2 separate regions of the Homo sapiens genome follow, and region 2 is linked to region 1. The links come from fine-mapping of genetic effects on gene expression. Tissue or cell type: whole blood. Region 1 holds a variant in brackets; the other region holds the start of a gene. All regions are shown on one strand. Distances are from middle to middle.

Evidence for each region. PIP is the estimated chance that this variant, and not a neighbour inherited with it, causes the effect.
Region 2: HMOX1 starts here. The variant in region 1 is fine-mapped to the expression of HMOX1 in whole blood (INTERVAL, PIP above 0.99).

Annotation. Positions count from the first base shown.
Region 1 is chr22:35,474,304-35,482,406 of GRCh38, forward strand. No RefSeq gene overlaps it. Among named protein-coding and RNA genes, the nearest start is that of RASD2, 62 kb to the right of the region's middle. RefSeq lists a silencer at 4,622-4,799. The variant G/A (reference allele first, on the strand shown) is at 4,310.
Region 2 is chr22:35,376,611-35,384,713 of GRCh38, forward strand. HMOX1 (heme oxygenase 1) reads left to right here and starts at 4,486. Exons shown (of 5, transcript NM_002133.3): 1 at 4,486-4,586; 2 at 6,496-6,616. The coding sequence starts at 4,564. RefSeq lists enhancers at 1-1,126, 224-771, 733-972 and silencers at 4,207-4,286, 4,587-4,756.

The sequences.
Region 1 (8,103 bases):
GTGAGAAGGGAGGGGAAGAATCTTCCTTTCCACCGGGCCCAAGCCCTACTCTGGACTTTCCTTCTCTTTGAGGTTTTCAAGAACCAGAGTGTTAGGGGACTCTGCAAAGAGCACCGGGAAGACCACCCCTGCCTGCTCCTGGAGAACCTCCTCTGGCCCTGTGGCCGCCATCCAACCTGCAGCCCACCTCTGCCCTGAAGCACAGGGGAGTGAGGGAAGGCACGGGCTTGGGAATCAGGAAACTGGGTCTCCAGCCAGCTCTCCCTCCCTGGCTGGAGCGGCAGAGCTCAGCGGATGGGGCCGTGGGTTCTGGAGGTGGACAGTCTCACTTTTATTTATTATTATTATTATTATTATTATTTTTTTTTTTTTTTTTTTGAGACAGAGTCTCACTCTGTCTTCCAGACTGGAGTGTGGTGGCATGATCTTAGCTCACTGCAACCTCCGCCTCCTGGGTTCAAGCAATTCTCCTGCCTCAGCCTCCCGAGTAGCTGGGACTACAGGTGCATGCCACCATGCCTGGCTAATTTTTGTATTTTTAGTAGAGATGGGGTTTCACCATATTGGTCAGTCTGGTCTCGAACTCCTGATCTCAAGTGATCTGCCTCGGCTTCCCAGAGTGCTGGGATTACAGGCATGAGCCACTATGCCTGGCCGAGTCTCACTTTTAATCCCAGCTCTGCCCAAGTGGAACCCGGGAGTCCACTTGGGCTAGTGGACAAGTGTCAGGAAACGCTGCCCAGAGAGGACGTGGGCAGAGTCAAGAAGGGGGAGTTACAGTCATCTGAATAAAGACGGAGGGGAAAAGGGACAGTGCAAGGCTGGCAAGGTCAGTGGGAGGTGGGTGGATGGGGTGGCAGGAGCAGGTCCTGCCAGCCTGTGTGTCAGGACGTCTGACCTTGTCCCATGGGCAGTGGGAGTTACTACAAGGTTCTATGCAGGAGAGAGGCTGGTCAGATTTGTGTCTAATCCCCACAAACCCTGCCCTGTGAGCTTGAACAAGGGGTCTTCCTTTCTAGGTGGGAACTCCTCCTCTGCAGGATGAGGCACCCAGCCTTGGCAGTCCTTAGCTCCCATATAGTTCTGGTGCCGGATTAGGATGCAGAACAAGGCGTGGGCTCAGCAGAGCCACTTTGGGGGTAACTTTTGGGCATGGGAGGGCCCTGGGCCTCAAATTGCTCCCAGTGCAATTGGTCCCACAAGGCAAGATGTTTCCCTATAGATGCTTAGATGGCCTGGACCTCACCTTGACGTGCCTCCTTTGTTCCCAGCCACACTTTGGCCTCACTGGGCCTGTGTCGATCCTGTAGCCCCACGGCTCTTCTTGGGGAGGGAAGTCTTTGTGGGGTCCTTGTCGAGTGTGTGGGTCATAGGCCTGGGTGTGTGAAAGGGCTGCAAAGCATGAGGGAAGGGGGAGAAACCGCTGTGCAGGGGGCAAAACCACTGTGTAGAAGGCAAGGGGGAGAGTCCGGGCATAGCGCCAGGTGGGGAGGCACTGGGGGAGAAGACGGGGGAAAGGAAGCAGGAGCCGAGGGGAGACTGGGGGACTGGTGCGCTTTTTTTTTTTTTAACTTCATGAAAATATTTGTTTGACTAAAATTACCCTTTTTTTTTTTTTGCCCTTTCAGAAACTATGTTAGTAGTTCTGTGGACACACTTAATTGAAAATAAGAGGCCAGGTGCAGTGGCTCACGCCTGTAATCCCAGCACTTTGGGAGGCCAAGGCGGACGGGTCACCAGAGTTCAGGAGTTCGAGACCAGCCTGGCCAACATGGTGAAACCCCGTCTCTACAAAAAATACAAAAATTACCTGTGCGTAGTGGTGCATGTCTATAATCCCAGCTACTCAGGAGGTTCAGGCAGGAGAATCACTTGAACCCGGGAGGCAGAGGTTGGAGTGAGCCAAGATTGTGCGCCATTGTACTCCAGCCTGGGCAACAAGAGTGAAATTCCGTCTCAAAAAAAAAAAAAAGAAAAGAAAAGCTGTGTATACAACAAAAGGACGAAGAACACTGGTCAAGATGCACCATTAGCGTAGGGCGGGTAAGTTTAGACTAGAGAATGGGTCTAAGGAGCTTAACTTGACTATGAAGCATGATTTTGTCAACAGGGTGGAAAGCAACCGTGTATTTGGTTTTCCACTGGATCGCTGCTTCCGCCTCTGCAAACCACCAGGAAATAGGCTCTTCTAAGCCTCCTCAGATTTCAAAATGCACCGACCGTATCACATTATTGTTTCTTCAGAGCAAGAGTTGCTTCTTTGTCTCCCCTACTGTGCATTCCATAGGTGACTCAGAAAGACGCATTTTTAGTTTTTGTTGTTATTTGGAGTTTTATTATGGAAATTACCAAACATACCCAAAGGTAGCGAGAGCAGGATAATAAACCTCCGTGTGCCCATCATGAGTCCGATGATGATCGACTCAGGGGAGTTGGGTTTCATCTCTTCCCCCCTTCATTTCTATCCTAGGTATTATGTCGTTTCTCCCATACATCGGAAGGCATTTGAGCACAGAGATGCCTGTCCCCCCATTTTCGTCTCCTTGAAAACTTCACTTAAGGCTGCTGTGTTCATGAGGCTTTCTGTGGGTGGATGGAGGTCAACCTTGAAGAAGCAGCCGATTTCAGCTGGAGGTTGGTGCTGCCCTGGACATCAGGCCCCCAGAAGCAGGGGAGACCATGGGAACATGAAATGTTGGGGTGCTTTTGCAATTCCCGGAGCATGGAAGTGGGATTGGGCAGGAGGAGGGGCTACTGCACTGTGATGCTATTTAGCTGATGACCTTTAGAGTCACAAACCCCTGGACTGTCAGAGCTGGTGGCATCTTAGCTATCTCCAGTCTATCCCCTCACTGGACAGAGGAGGAAACTGAGGCCCAGAGAGTGGGGGCATCTTGCTCAAGGCCATGCATCAAATCAGTCAGAACCCAAGGACCTGGCTGTTTCCTGCCTGGTGTCCAACCAGCGTTTTAGAGCCCCCGCTGCAGTCAATCGCTATCAGGCACCCTGTGTCCTTCCCAGAGCATTGCTGAATACCTGGAAGGAGGCAGAGAACACCAGCCCAAGGAAGGAATACACTGGGATCTTGAGGAAGGCAGGAGCTTCCTTGGTGCAGTGTCCCCAGCTGCCTATCTGCCTGGGAGTGGCCTGGGCACCCAGGACCTCCTCTCCAACTCCAGGCATCCCATGGAGCACTTGGCAGCCCAGCTGAGGGATACTCCAGGAGGATCTTCCCTTGGCAGGTAGATCCATGTCAAACGGATCCCTCATCCAAAGCCAGCGCTGGCTTCACGTGCTGTTTTGTCTTCTCTTCCTCTCACACGAACATACGCTGTGTTGTTCTTTCCTGAACTTCTCCCTCCTCTCTCCCTCTTTTTTTTTTTTTTTTTTTGAGATGGAGTCTCACTCTGTCACCCAGGCTGGAGTGCAGTGACGCGATCTTGGCTCACCGCAACCTCCGCCTCCTGGGTTCAAGTGATTCTCCTGCCTCAGCCTCCCGAGTAGCTGGGATTACAGGCACCCACCACCAAGCCAGCCAATTTCTGTATTTTTAGTAGAGACGGGGTTTCACCACATTGGTCAGGCTGGTCTCGAACTCCTGACCTCAGGTGATCCACCCGCCTCAGCTTCCCAAAGTGCTGGGATTACAGGTGTTAGCCACTGCACACAGCCACTCTCTTCCTCCTTTTATCAGCCCATACTCATCTTCCCCCAGCTGCCCCGCCCCTGCTCCCCCCACCTCTCTTTCTCTCCCCACTTCCCTCCTTCTCCTCTCATAAATTCTCCCTCTGGGCTTTTTGCCAAGGGGCTGAATAAACAGGAAGGAAGGGGCAAATAAATCACCAAGACAGGCTCTGGGAAGGTTTCTGACTCTGGAGACCGTCACAGAAGAGCTGGCCGGCCTCCGCCTTGGGAGTTGCAGCGAGGCTGTGTAGAAGGGGTTATAGGAGCAGTGATATGGGGTCAGCAGCAGGCTGGTGCCCAGGCAGGCTTTCATCAACGCTGCGACCTTCAGAGTGAGGCTGAGGAGAAGCCCAGGTGGGGAGTCTAGAGCCCTGGCCACCAGTTGGGTTCTGCTGTGTGACTCTGGACAAATCTCACCCCCTCTCTGAGCCTCCATCTCCCCATTTGTAACAGGAGGGACCCGGATTAGATGGCTGGGAGTGGTCCTTGCGGCCCTGATGTTGTCGGAGTCTGAGGATTGATCTTTTATACAACTTGGAGGGCTCTGGAGGGAGGGTCTTGCTGAGCTGCTCTGATAGTGGGGATCATGCAGACCCCCGGCTTTCCCACTCTAGACGGCCTTGGC[G/A]AGAGCCCCCAGCTGCCCTTGAGTTGGGACATCCTGGGGGTGAATGAGGGTAGAAAAAGGCAGCTGCAGTTGGAGGCTTGCGGCTCAGAGCTAAGGCCTCCACCCCACAGCCTCCGCTGGCTCCCCAGGTGAGCTGGGACACCAAGATCAGAGGCTGGAAACAAGAAGTTTTGGCTTTTAGCTGGCAGCAGCAGCAGCTGCCAACATCATCTCTCCTTCAAATGACAGGCTGGGGACTTTGGGAAAACAGCCACAATAAGCGTGTTCGGAGGGAAAGGAGGGGGAGAGGAAGGAAAGAGAGCAGAGAAGATGGTGAGGTCTGGATCGTGGGGTGCAGCGTGTGTGCGCACATGTGCTTCTGTGATCCTCAGTATGTCAGTGTTTCTGTGACTGTGTGTACACTTACGCTGTGTCTCTGTGATTCAATCTCTGTGTGTCCCCAGGGAGACAGTGTGCGTCTCTGTTTTTGTTTGTTTGTTTTTTTTTTTTTTTTTGAGACGGAGTCTTGCTCTGTCACCCCGGCTGGAGTGCAGTGGTGCGATCTCGGCTCACTGCAACCTCCGCCTCCCGGGTTCAAGCAATTCTCCTGCCTCAGCCTCCTGAGTAGCTGGGATTACAGGTGCATGCTACCACGCCCTGGCTAGTTTTTGTATTTTTTAGTAGAGACGGGGTTTCGCCATGTTGGCCAGGCTAGTCTCGAACTCCTGACCTCAGGTGATCTGCCTTCCTTGGCCTCCCAAAGTATGGGGATTACAGGCGTGGGCCACGGCGCCTGGCCTAGTGTGAGTCTCTGTTTATGGTGATGGGTGGCAGCGCAATGCCTTGAAAATGTTTCCTCCAAGGTAGCAAAGAAAAGTCCCTGTGACCATCCAAAGCCTTGGTGAGCTCAGCGGCTGAGCACTGGTCTGGAAGTTAGGAGACGTGGGTTCCAGCTTTGGATCTGCTACAGGCTCACTTGGCAGCCTTGGGCGAGCCACTACCTTTCCTTGACTTGAGGAGCCTCAATGGCAAATAGCAACACAGCCAACTCTTTTTTTTTTTTTTTCCTAGAGAAAAAAAAGCTGTATGCTTTATTAAGCAGAGTGACAGTATAAAGCTTCCACAGCGTGGAAGGAGTCCCAAGCGGGTAGCCAGTGTTAGATTTTTTGATCACCTTTTAAACTCTTTAAGGCGGGAAATATGTGCGGCGGGAAGATGTTACCAGAGCGAGAAACAAAGACAATTAACATGTCTCAGATCTTGAAGAAAACCGGAATTGTAACTTAAGTTTTATCTGCGTATAACCTTGCAGCGGCATGGCAAAGGAGACAGGATCTCACAGAATTTTACAAATTGGCAACACAGTCAACTCTTTTAGAGCATTTGCTATGTGCCAGGCCCTGTCCTAAGCACATCACAGGTCAGGGTTATCCAACCCTGGAAGGTTATCTCCATTTTACAGATGTGGAAACTGAGGCCCGTGCCTAAGATGCCGTATCTAGTGAGTGGGGGGACTGAGATTCCAGTCCAGGCAGTTTGGCTTGGAGTTTGAGCTCTTCACCACACGCTGCCCAGCGATCCTGCCGGAGGGTCTTGACCACAGAGTGGGGGTGTGGGGGCTGTGATTCAGATTCTCCGAGGTGCTGATGCAGCTCTGTGGCGCCTACTGCCCCCGCCCCCCGACTGAGAACTGTGGCTGTGCTCAGCCACCGTGACTGGCTGGGGTATGGCTCGGATCCCTTGGGTGTTGGCCAGGCCCCAGTTGATCTCCAAGGGCTCTCGGTGTTCCAGGAAGCTATGGCTTGGTGTCTGAAACACAGTCTGGAGTAATAAATGTCGGGAGGAAGGATGTGACTAGGCTGCACAGGGAAGAGACCAAGACACTTTGAGCCAAATCTCTCTTTCTCTTGGGACCCCAAGAGCTGATTCACCTGGAACATCCTGGAGCCATGACACAAGCCATGCTCTGATGGCAGAGGCTGCCAGCTGCCACCCAGGACAGAGAGCTTATGGGAGGTGGTGGAGTTCCTGCTCCCCGCAAAGCCTGAGGGCTGGTAGAGATGTGAGGGTGTTTCAACGTTGCTTTCCAAGATAAGGAATGAGTTCTTTTTCTGTCCTTCTTCTTCTGTCCCTGGACAGCCTGACTGCGTCAAAGAAGGAGGTGGGGGAGCCAGGGGGCAGCTGGGGTAGGAAGAAGTCCAGCTTGGTGACATTAATGGGAGGACAGAATTGCCTGGCTCTTCTGTTTTTGGACACGGGCACAGTTATGAAACTTTGAGCAACCCCAGGCCTGGGGCTGGTTCCTGGTGGCCCTGGCCCACCCCTGCCTGCTGTGTGAGGCCTGTGAGGTGCATGAGGCCACTGTCCATAAATGGAATTGTCAGTTTATTACCCTCGGTACCCAGCCCAGTGCCTGGAAGTTCTTCCCGGATGTCGACTGCCGTGGGGAGAAGAGGGGCCCACTGGCCACAGTGAGGGTGCTGAGCTGGAGACGAGTTACACCCGATCTCATCCTGGGAGGAGACTGTGGTCTGGAGGGGGTGAGAGCAAAAATGCAGAGGCTTAAAACAGAGGTGAGGGCAGAGGGAGGCAGGAGAGACCGGGAAGGATTCAGGAAGCCTGTTTCCCACGTGGGAGGCGGAGGGATTTTCTTAAAACAGAAATCAGACCGTGCCACTTCCTGGTGGCGTTGCCCTAAAATAGATTCCATACTCTGTCCTGCTGTGCCATCTGGCTCTGCTTTCTCTCCACCTCCTCTAATGTTATCGTCTCCTCCCTGCTGTCCACTGTCCCGCCACACGGGTTTCTTCCAGTTCCTCGAACACACTAAGCCATGTCCACCCTTGGGGCTTGGCCCAACTCATTCCTACTTCCTGGACATCGCCCCGCCCTGCACTTTGCACTCATTCAGGTGCCTGCTTAAATGTTACCTCCTCAGAGAGGGCTTCCTACCGTATTTTGTCTCTCTCCCACTAGATTATCACCTAAAACCGAGCAGGGGCCATATAGGTCTTCTATAAATATCTCTTGTTAGTCAGCAAACATTTATTGAATGACTGTATGAAGGAGAAAATGGCTTACCTGGCTTTGGAAGCTTGGGGTTGCTCTACCTAAAGGAGTCATTCTCTATTTCAGCACCCCCTCATTTATTTAATTTAATTTATTTATTTAAGTCAGAGCCTTGCTCTGTCGCCCAGGCTGGAGTACAGTGGAGCGATCTCAGCTCACTGCAACCTCTGCCTCCCAGGTTCAAGCGATTCTCCTGCCTCAGCCTCCTGAGTAGCTGGGATTACACATGCGCACCACCACAAGTGGCTAATTTTGTACTTTTAGTAGACGGGGTTTCACCGTGTTGGCCAGGCTGGTCTCGAACTCCTGACTTCAGGTGATCTGCCCACCTGGGCCCCCCAAAGTGCTGGGATTGTAGGCATGAGCCGCTGCGCCCAGCCAGCACCCCACTGTTTAATGTATATGTATGAAGCTCATCGCAATTTGTAATCAATTTATTTATTGTTTTTGTCTCTCTCCCACTAGACTGTCACCTAAAACCGAGCAGAGGCCATATGCGTGCTCTATAAATATTTGTTGTTAGTCAGCAAACATTTATTGAATGACTGTATGAAGGAGATAATGGTTTTACCTGGCTTTGGAAGGCTGAGTAGGAACAGGGAAAGCAAAGAAGGATGTGCTTAGCTGTAATATCCGAAAACTCAACTATCAGTAGCTTAACTTCTAAGGATATCTATTGTTGACTTGGGAAGATGTCCGGATCTAGATTGTCCTCATGTTGATTCTGCAGCTTAACAGTGTCATTG
Region 2 (8,103 bases), 98 kb before region 1:
GTGCTAGGATTACAGGCGTGAGCCACCACAATTGGCCCAGTCTATGGATTTTTAAAAAATAACTTGGGCTTGTCTTCCTTGCTGAAGAAGGCTGTTTTCCAGCCTGTCACACAGCAGTTAGGCTGTAGACCCTCACTGGAGCCCCTGCCCTGCAGAATCGAGCACATGTTCTTTCTGGGTCTGTGTGGGGTGTGGGTGTGGTCAGGACACCGTCTGTGACCTTATTTACTGGGGACGTCCCCTGCTTGAGGAGAATATCCAGGCAAGGTCTCCTCACTCTCCTTAGCCACCATCCAGCTTGGCCAAGAGGCCTCCCCATGATTCCTCCCACGCCAGGGCCTCGCCTTTGTTTTTCACTGTTAGGGGCTGGCGAGTCACTGACCCGCCCCCCTCCCTGCTGCCCAAACCACTTCTGTTTCCTGAAGGCGCCTTGGGAATGCTGAGTCGCGATTTCCTCATCCCCTCGTGCAGCTGCATTTCTGCTGCGTCATGTTTGGGAGGGGGGACTCGCGGAAACAAAGGGAAGGCGGATTTTGCTAGATTTTGCTGAGTCACCAGTGCCTCCTCAGCTTCTCTTTAGGTGGGAGGTGAAAGGGCAGCTTTAATGGTAGGCAGGAGGAAGTGAAACTTCTAGAAAACGGCAGAAGCCTCTTGTTTGTCTTTTCTAAGTCTGTGCCTTTCCCCTGCTGGGTCCCCCAGCTCCCACCCTGTGAAGTCCACCTCAATCTGCCCCTGATTTAATGTTGCAATCCACCGAGGCCTTCTTATGCTTCACATCTCTCTGACTTCTGCATCTGCCTCATCTCTTCTGCCTCCAGCAGGAGAAAGTTCTCTACTTTTTTTGCCTGGATAATTATTGTATTTTTAGTAGAGATGGGGGTTTCACCATGTTGGTCAGGCTGGTCTTGAACTCCTGACCTCAGGTGATCAGCCCACCTCAGCCTCCCAAAGTGCTGGGATTATAGGTATGAGCCACCGTGCCCAGCCTCATCCTCCATCTTCAAAGCTAGCAGCATGGCATCTCCCAGTCTCTCTCTCTGTCCTCTGCTTTCTTTGTCACCTTCTGTATGTGCAACCATCCAGCCTCCCTCTTATAAGGCCCAAGAGGATAATCCAAGATAATTCCCCATCTCAACATCCTTGACTTAATCACTTCTGCAAGATCCTTTTGCTATGTAAGGTAGCAAAAAGGTAACCTATTCACAGGTTCTGGTGATTAGAATGTGGACACCTTTAAGGGGCTTTTATTTGGCCCAGCAGGAGGAGAGAGAATAGCATTTGGATCATCCTGTTGCTTGACTAAAAAGAAGGGGAAGTCAGGAGGCTGAATCAGCATGCGAAAGGGCCACAAATTCAGCCCTGGGACAGCCTAGAGGACCAGAACAACTCTGGCCTGGCCTCTTGCACCCCAGCAACCCACTGTGTGGGGGGCTGTTCTAACGAAGTCTGGGGCTCCCAGAGAACAGTTAGAAAAGAAAGCAAGCCCAGACCGGCAGCCAGGAACCCTGGGTCACTGGAGGTTCTCTTTCCAATGGGGGGCATAGCCTGGCCAAGTCCCTCCTGCTCTTGGGGTCCCTGCTTCCCTGTGTTAAATAAAAAGGGTTCAGATCTCATGAGTTTTACCCTCTAGGGTCGCTGAATGGACAGACTCTGGATCTATACACGCAAACTCATCTCCCCTAAACTCCTGGACCCTCTGTGAGAAGGGTTGGAGTGTGGTGGTCAGGACTGTGGGGACTGGCTTCAAAGTGCTGTAGTTTGAATCCTGGCTCTTCCATCATTAACTGTATGACTTGGGAAAATGACTTATCCTCTTTGTCCCTCAGTGCTCATGTGGGCAAAATAGAGATGAAAATAGCTTGCAAGGCTGTTGTCAGGATGGGCTGCAATCACGCGCGTGAAGTCTCTGCACATAGTAAATTCTCAATAAAGGCTGGTTAGAATGACAGTTTGGAATTGTGGCTTGGTTCCAGCCCATTCTATCAGCCCAGCAATATTACAGCCTAACAATATTATTATTTTTTCCCAGAAAGAGACCTTGAAGCATCTATTCATTCAGGCATGCATTCAGTATTAACTGTGACCTACCAGGCACTATTCCAGGAACTGGGAATTTACAAAGCAAAGTAGTAGGCAAGGTCTCCACCTTTGTGCTTTACATGCCACTGTTGGGGCTCAGAAAGTGATACCAGGACAACTGGTGCTTTGACATGATGAGAGGCCTTAGGAGCTGCCTCAGAGTCAAGGTCCCTGTAAGCTTGTCTTGTTCCCCCGACAAGCACAGGGAGAGACGCTCTCTGGAATTTCCTTATCTGACCAAGAACACTTCTTTACAAAAGAAATGCAATTGTGTTAAGTCTTTTTTTCCTTTGAGACAGAGTCTCGCTCTTGTCACCCAGGCTGGAGTGCAGTGGCACTATCTTGGCTCACTGCAACCTCCTCCTCCTCCCGGGTTCAAGCGATTCTCCTGCCTCAGCCTCCCAAAGTGCTGGGATTACAGGTGTGAGCCACCGCGCCCGGCCAGTGTTAAGCCCTTTTTCTAGTAATCTCATCAAATATCCAGGAAAGATCAACCACTGGAGAGAGAAAGAGACTGGGAGTCATCACCAGACCCAGACAGATTTACCTGTTCTTCTGAGGACAGTGCCAAGAGATTACCTGGGGGACTTTATCTGCCTAGGACAACCTTTGTCCCTGTGCGGCTCCACCTCCACCTTCCCTTAAAGTCGGCCTTTCACCTCCAGGGCCATTCCTTCTTGCTAATGATTTACTGTCTTTCAAAAGAATTGTCTGCATTCCCTATCTCCCTTCTCCCCTATAAAAAAGGCTGGGTAGCCTCTGTACTCCACTGGGTTACAGGGTCACCATTCTTCCGTGATTACCCCATTACAATACATTTTTGTATGTCTTTTCTCCTCTTAACCTGACTTTTGTCGGTTGGTTTTCGGGGAACCTTCAGAGGAAGAAGGGGAATTTTTTTCAAGGCCCCTTAGCTCACCCTTGGGAGGATGATCCTTTCCAATACAATCTCAGAAGTGCCTCTGGGCTGTAGTGGCCCTAGGCTGAATTCCAGGAAGTTTTTTTTTTTTTTTTTTGTTTTTTTTTTTTTTTGAGGGACAGCGTCTTGTTCTGTTGCCCAGGTTAGAATACAGTAGCGTGGTCACAGCTCACTCCAGCCTCTACATCCCAGGCTCAAGTGAACCTCCAGCCTCAGCCTCCCAAGTAGCTGGGACCACAGGCATGTGCCACCATGCCCAGCTAATTTATTTTATATTTTGTAGAGACAGGGTCTCCCTATGTTGCCCAGGCCAGTCTCGAACTCAAAGCAATCTTCCCACCTCGACTGGGCTCAAAGCGCTCTTCCCACCTCAACCTCCCAAAGTACTGGGACTACAGGTGTGAGCTACCATGCCAGGCCTGAAAGCCATCTTAAAAAAAAAATCTTAGAATGAGAATCACAGTATTGGGAAAGGACTGTATGAATCATCTGGTCCATTCGTTTTGTCCTCTGGGTTCACCCAGTGACCCTATTTCCCCCGAGTTCTAAGGAGTCCACCTCATGCAGAATTGATTCAATAGGCGATCAGCAAGGGCCAGCTCTGCTCTGGGCCCTGAGCAGGCACTGAGTATAAGTCAGACCTGAATGTGCCTGGAAGAGTGTCCCACGCATTCCAGCAGGGAAGCAGTTTGTATGACAGGTGTCCCAGTCCAGGCGGATACCAGGTGCTGCCAGAGTGTGGAGGAGGCAGGCGGGGACTTAGTCTCCTCCCTGGGTTTGGACACTGGCATCCTGCTTTATGTGTGACACCACTGCACCCCTCTGAGCCTCGGTTTCCCCATCTGTAAAATAGAAGCGATCTACCCTCACAGGTCAGTTGTAGGGATGAACCATGAAAATACTAGAGTCTCTGTTTTTTGACAGGAACTCAAAAAACAGATCCTAAATGTACATTTAAAGAGGGTGTGAGGAGGCAAGCAGTCAGCAGAGGATTCCAGCAGGTGACATTTTAGGGAGCTGGAGACAGCAGAGCCTGGGGTTGCTAAGTTCCTGATGTTGCCCACCAGGCTATTGCTCTGAGCAGCGCTGCCTCCCAGCTTTCTGGAACCTTCTGGGACGCCTGGGGTGCATCAAGTCCCAAGGGGACAGGGAGCAGAAGGGGGGGCTCTGGAAGGAGCAAAATCACACCCAGAGCCTGCAGCTTCTCAGATTTCCTTAAAGGTTTTGTGTGTGTGTGTGTGTGTGTGTGTGTGTGTATGTGTGTGTGTGTGTGTGTGTGTGTGTGTTTTCTCTAAAAGTCCTATGGCCAGACTTTGTTTCCCAAGGGTCATATGACTGCTCCTCTCCACCCCACACTGGCCCGGGGCGGGCTGGGCGCGGGCCCCTGCGGGTGTTGCAACGCCCGGCCAGAAAGTGGGCATCAGCTGTTCCGCCTGGCCCACGTGACCCGCCGAGCATAAATGTGACCGGCCGCGGCTCCGGCAGTCAACGCCTGCCTCCTCTCGAGCGTCCTCAGCGCAGCCGCCGCCCGCGGAGCCAGCACGAACGAGCCCAGCACCGGCCGGATGGAGCGTCCGCAACCCGACAGGCAAGCGCGGGGCGCGGGACGCGGGACGGGCGCCTTTCTCTCCCAACCCTGCTTGCGTCCTAGCCCCACCCCGGGACACTGCCACACAGCGACAGAGCCCAGGAGCCAGAAACTTGGGCTCTGGAGTCAGGAGGTGCGGGGTTCTGATCCTGCCTGTGCCCGTAGGGTAGTTGGAGGGAGGAACGGTAATTTACATGCCTGGCACCCTGGTATGCGGTTGGTGACCAAGATGGGAGTGTCCCTAGAGTATCCAGTCTTTGAGGTAGCCAATTTTTTTTTTAATCCTACTTTCGAGGTGTGTTTGGAGTTGCTCTCTGCTGAATCTAGATCTCTGGGGCTCTGCCAGCCTGGGGGAGCATGCTTGGTTCTCTTGGTGGCATCTGTCCCTCACTAGCTACGGAGGACCTGAGCCAGACATCACCCTGGCTGCGGTGTTCCATGTCTCACAGATAGCCCAGTTCAGGGAGGCGACATGCCCAAGAGTGCTCAGTTAGCTGGTGTCAGAACTGGGCCTTGAACCTTGGTCTGCCCACCTCCAGGTCTCACTCATTCCCTTCTTTCAATAATTTGTTAGTATTTTTTTTTTTAACTCCTGGGCTTAAGCATCCTCCCACCTCAGCCTCCAGAGTAGCTGGGACTTACAGACATGTGCCATTTCTCCTGAGACTTTGACCAGCTGTGTTGTAGAACAGGGAAGCAGGGCAGGAGAAAAGGGAAAAATGACAATTCTGTGGGGAGGCAGGGATACGGACCCATGACAGAAATACTCCCAGAAAGACTTTTTCTTTGACTAAAGCAGACTTTCTCAGGCTTTTTAACCCTGACGCCTTCATGATGAGCATAACATGATAGGGGGTCATGAGATTTGCATCTGGAACTTTAACAAAATAACTGAATTAAATATTGGGTCTAAAAGCCAATCAAAGCAATTACAAACTTGGAGATGCCGGTTCATGGGGCTGCTGCTTCTTCCTGGGTTATGCTGTACCTCCTCCTCCTCTCCACTGCGAACTACCTGTACCAGGATTTCCCCCTTGGTTTGGGGGACTGTATTATTTAGTGTTTTAATGACTGAAGAGTGTTTACAAAGCTGCGAGAGCCACCATGCCCAGCCTGAATTTGTTTTTTGTTTTTTGTTTTTTTGTTTTTTTGCTTTTTTGCTTTTCTTTTTTTGAGATGGAGTGTTGCTCTGTTGCCCAGGCTGGAGTGCAGTGGCGCGATCTCGGCTCACTGCAACCTCTGCCTCCTGGGTTCAAGCGATTCTCCTGCCTCAGCCTCCCAAGTAGTTGGGATTACAGGCGCCCACTACCATGCCCGGCTATTTTTTTTTTTTTTTTTGTATTTTTAGTAGAGATAGGGTTTCACCATGTTGGCCAGGCTGGGCTCAAACTCCTGGCCTCAGGTGATCTGCCCGCCTCAGCCTCCCAAAGTGCTAGGATTACAGGCGTGAGCCACCATGCCTGGCCCTTTTTTTCTTTTTTTTTCTTTTTTTGAGATGGAGTCTCTCTGTCACCAAGTCTGGAGTGCAGTGGTGTGATCTCAGCTCACTGCAACCTCTGCCTCCGGGATTCAAGCAATTACAGGCATAATTGCTGGGATTACAGGCACCTGCCACCATGCCCGGCTAATTTTTGTATTTTTAGTAGAGACGGGGTTTCACCATGTTTGCCAGGCTGGTCTCGAACTCCTGACCTCAGGTGATCCACCTGCCTTGGCCTCCCAAAGCGCTGGGATTACAGGCGTGAGCCACCGTGCCCAGCCACAAGGCTGCATCTTAAAGCGATTGAGAACGTGGCCTGAATGAGGATGGGAGTCTCTTGAAGGCCTGCCCACAGGTGGGAGGCTCAGCAGTTGGGAAGGACCCCACCCCCAGCCAGCTTTGTGTTCACCTTTCCCATTTCCTCCTCAGCATGCCCCAGGATTTGTCAGAGGCCCTGAAGGAGGCCACCAAGGAGGTGCACACCCAGGCAGAGAATGCTGAGTTCATGAGGAACTTTCAGAAGGGCCAGGTGACCCGAGACGGCTTCAAGGTATGTGGCTTGGTGGGACTAGCCCTGGTGGAGGGTGTGGCAGGTGTGGGTGGACCCAAGGCTCAGACCAGTGGTTTAAGTGGGGATGCTGAGGGACCAGATGGGCATGTCCAATAGAATCATCTTAAAAATGATGACACTGAGGCTCAGAGAGGGAAGGTGAGTTACCCAAGGTCACACAGCAAGTTCAGCCTGCTCTGTAATGTTGTGGAGGGGCTGGGGCAGCAGTGCCGTTGACTGAGCACCGGTTCCATGTTGGGCATTTTGTACACGTGGTTTCTAATCTGTGCTTCAACCCTGACGAGAAAGATGAGGACTGGAAGGCTCAGAGAGGTTCAGTGACTAACAGAAGGTCACACAGCCAGTAAGTGGAAAAGGCTGAAATCAACCAAGACCGATTTCAGCCTTGTACTCCTTGTATTTCAGAGCTTGTACTCCTGATCTAACTCGAATTTGCCTCTGAAGATAAGGAATAATATAGGTTGGAGTCTTAACAGAACCCTTTTCTAACAGTGAGACTGAGGGTGCCTCATCTAATCTCCCTAAGCCACGTTTTCCCCATCTGTAAAAGAGTATTTCAACAGCAGGGTTTTCTTAAGCACCCACTATATGCCAGGTACTGATTTTGCTGTTTCCCAGCACTGTTGTGAAATTCATGCAAATAGAAGGAAAGCACTTGATGAAGAACCGGGAAGATACTGGGTGTTAAAACATCAGCGTGGGGAAGAGCTTGTTCAGGTTGAACAGAGGGTGTGGGGGTGGGGAGTAGGGAGCTATATCCCACCACCTTCATCCCAGTCCCTTTTGCAATCTGCACCCTCTGCCACCCCCTACTTCCAACATGAGACATGCTTTATTTATTTTATTTTATCTGAGACAGAGTCTCACTCTGTTGTCCGGGCTGGAGTGCAATGGCAAGATCTCGGTGCCCTGAAACCTCCGCATCCTAAGTTCAAGCGATTCTCCTGCCTCAGCCTCCCAAGTAGCTGGGACTACAGGTGCCCACCACCACACCTGGCCAATTTTTGTATTTTTTTAGTAGAGACAGGGTTTTACCATGTTGGCCAGGCTGGTCTCGAACTCCTGACCTCAGATGATCCACCCGTCTTGGTCTCCCAAAGTGCTGGGATTAGAGGTGTGAGCCACCACCCGGCCGAGACATGCTTTAATGAGGAGAGATTTAATCTGTGGTTCCAGGCTGGGTGGGGTCCTTGGGCCTGTAATGGGTCTTCCTCATCCTCCTCCCCTCTCCCTTAAAAAGATGAGGTACACCCAGTTGCTGCAGTGTGACTGGAGACAGTGGGTGCAGGGAGGTGAATGCTGGAATATCCCATCCCCAGCCAGCTTAGACTTTGGATTTTGCCTCTAAGTCACAGGGTTCTAAGGAGGCGCCAAGATCCATGAGAGAATCCAGTGCTCACTTACATTAAGCTGGTGGACGTGGCACTTATCACAGCCCTTCTCATGTGAGCGCTAAGTGCCAGGCT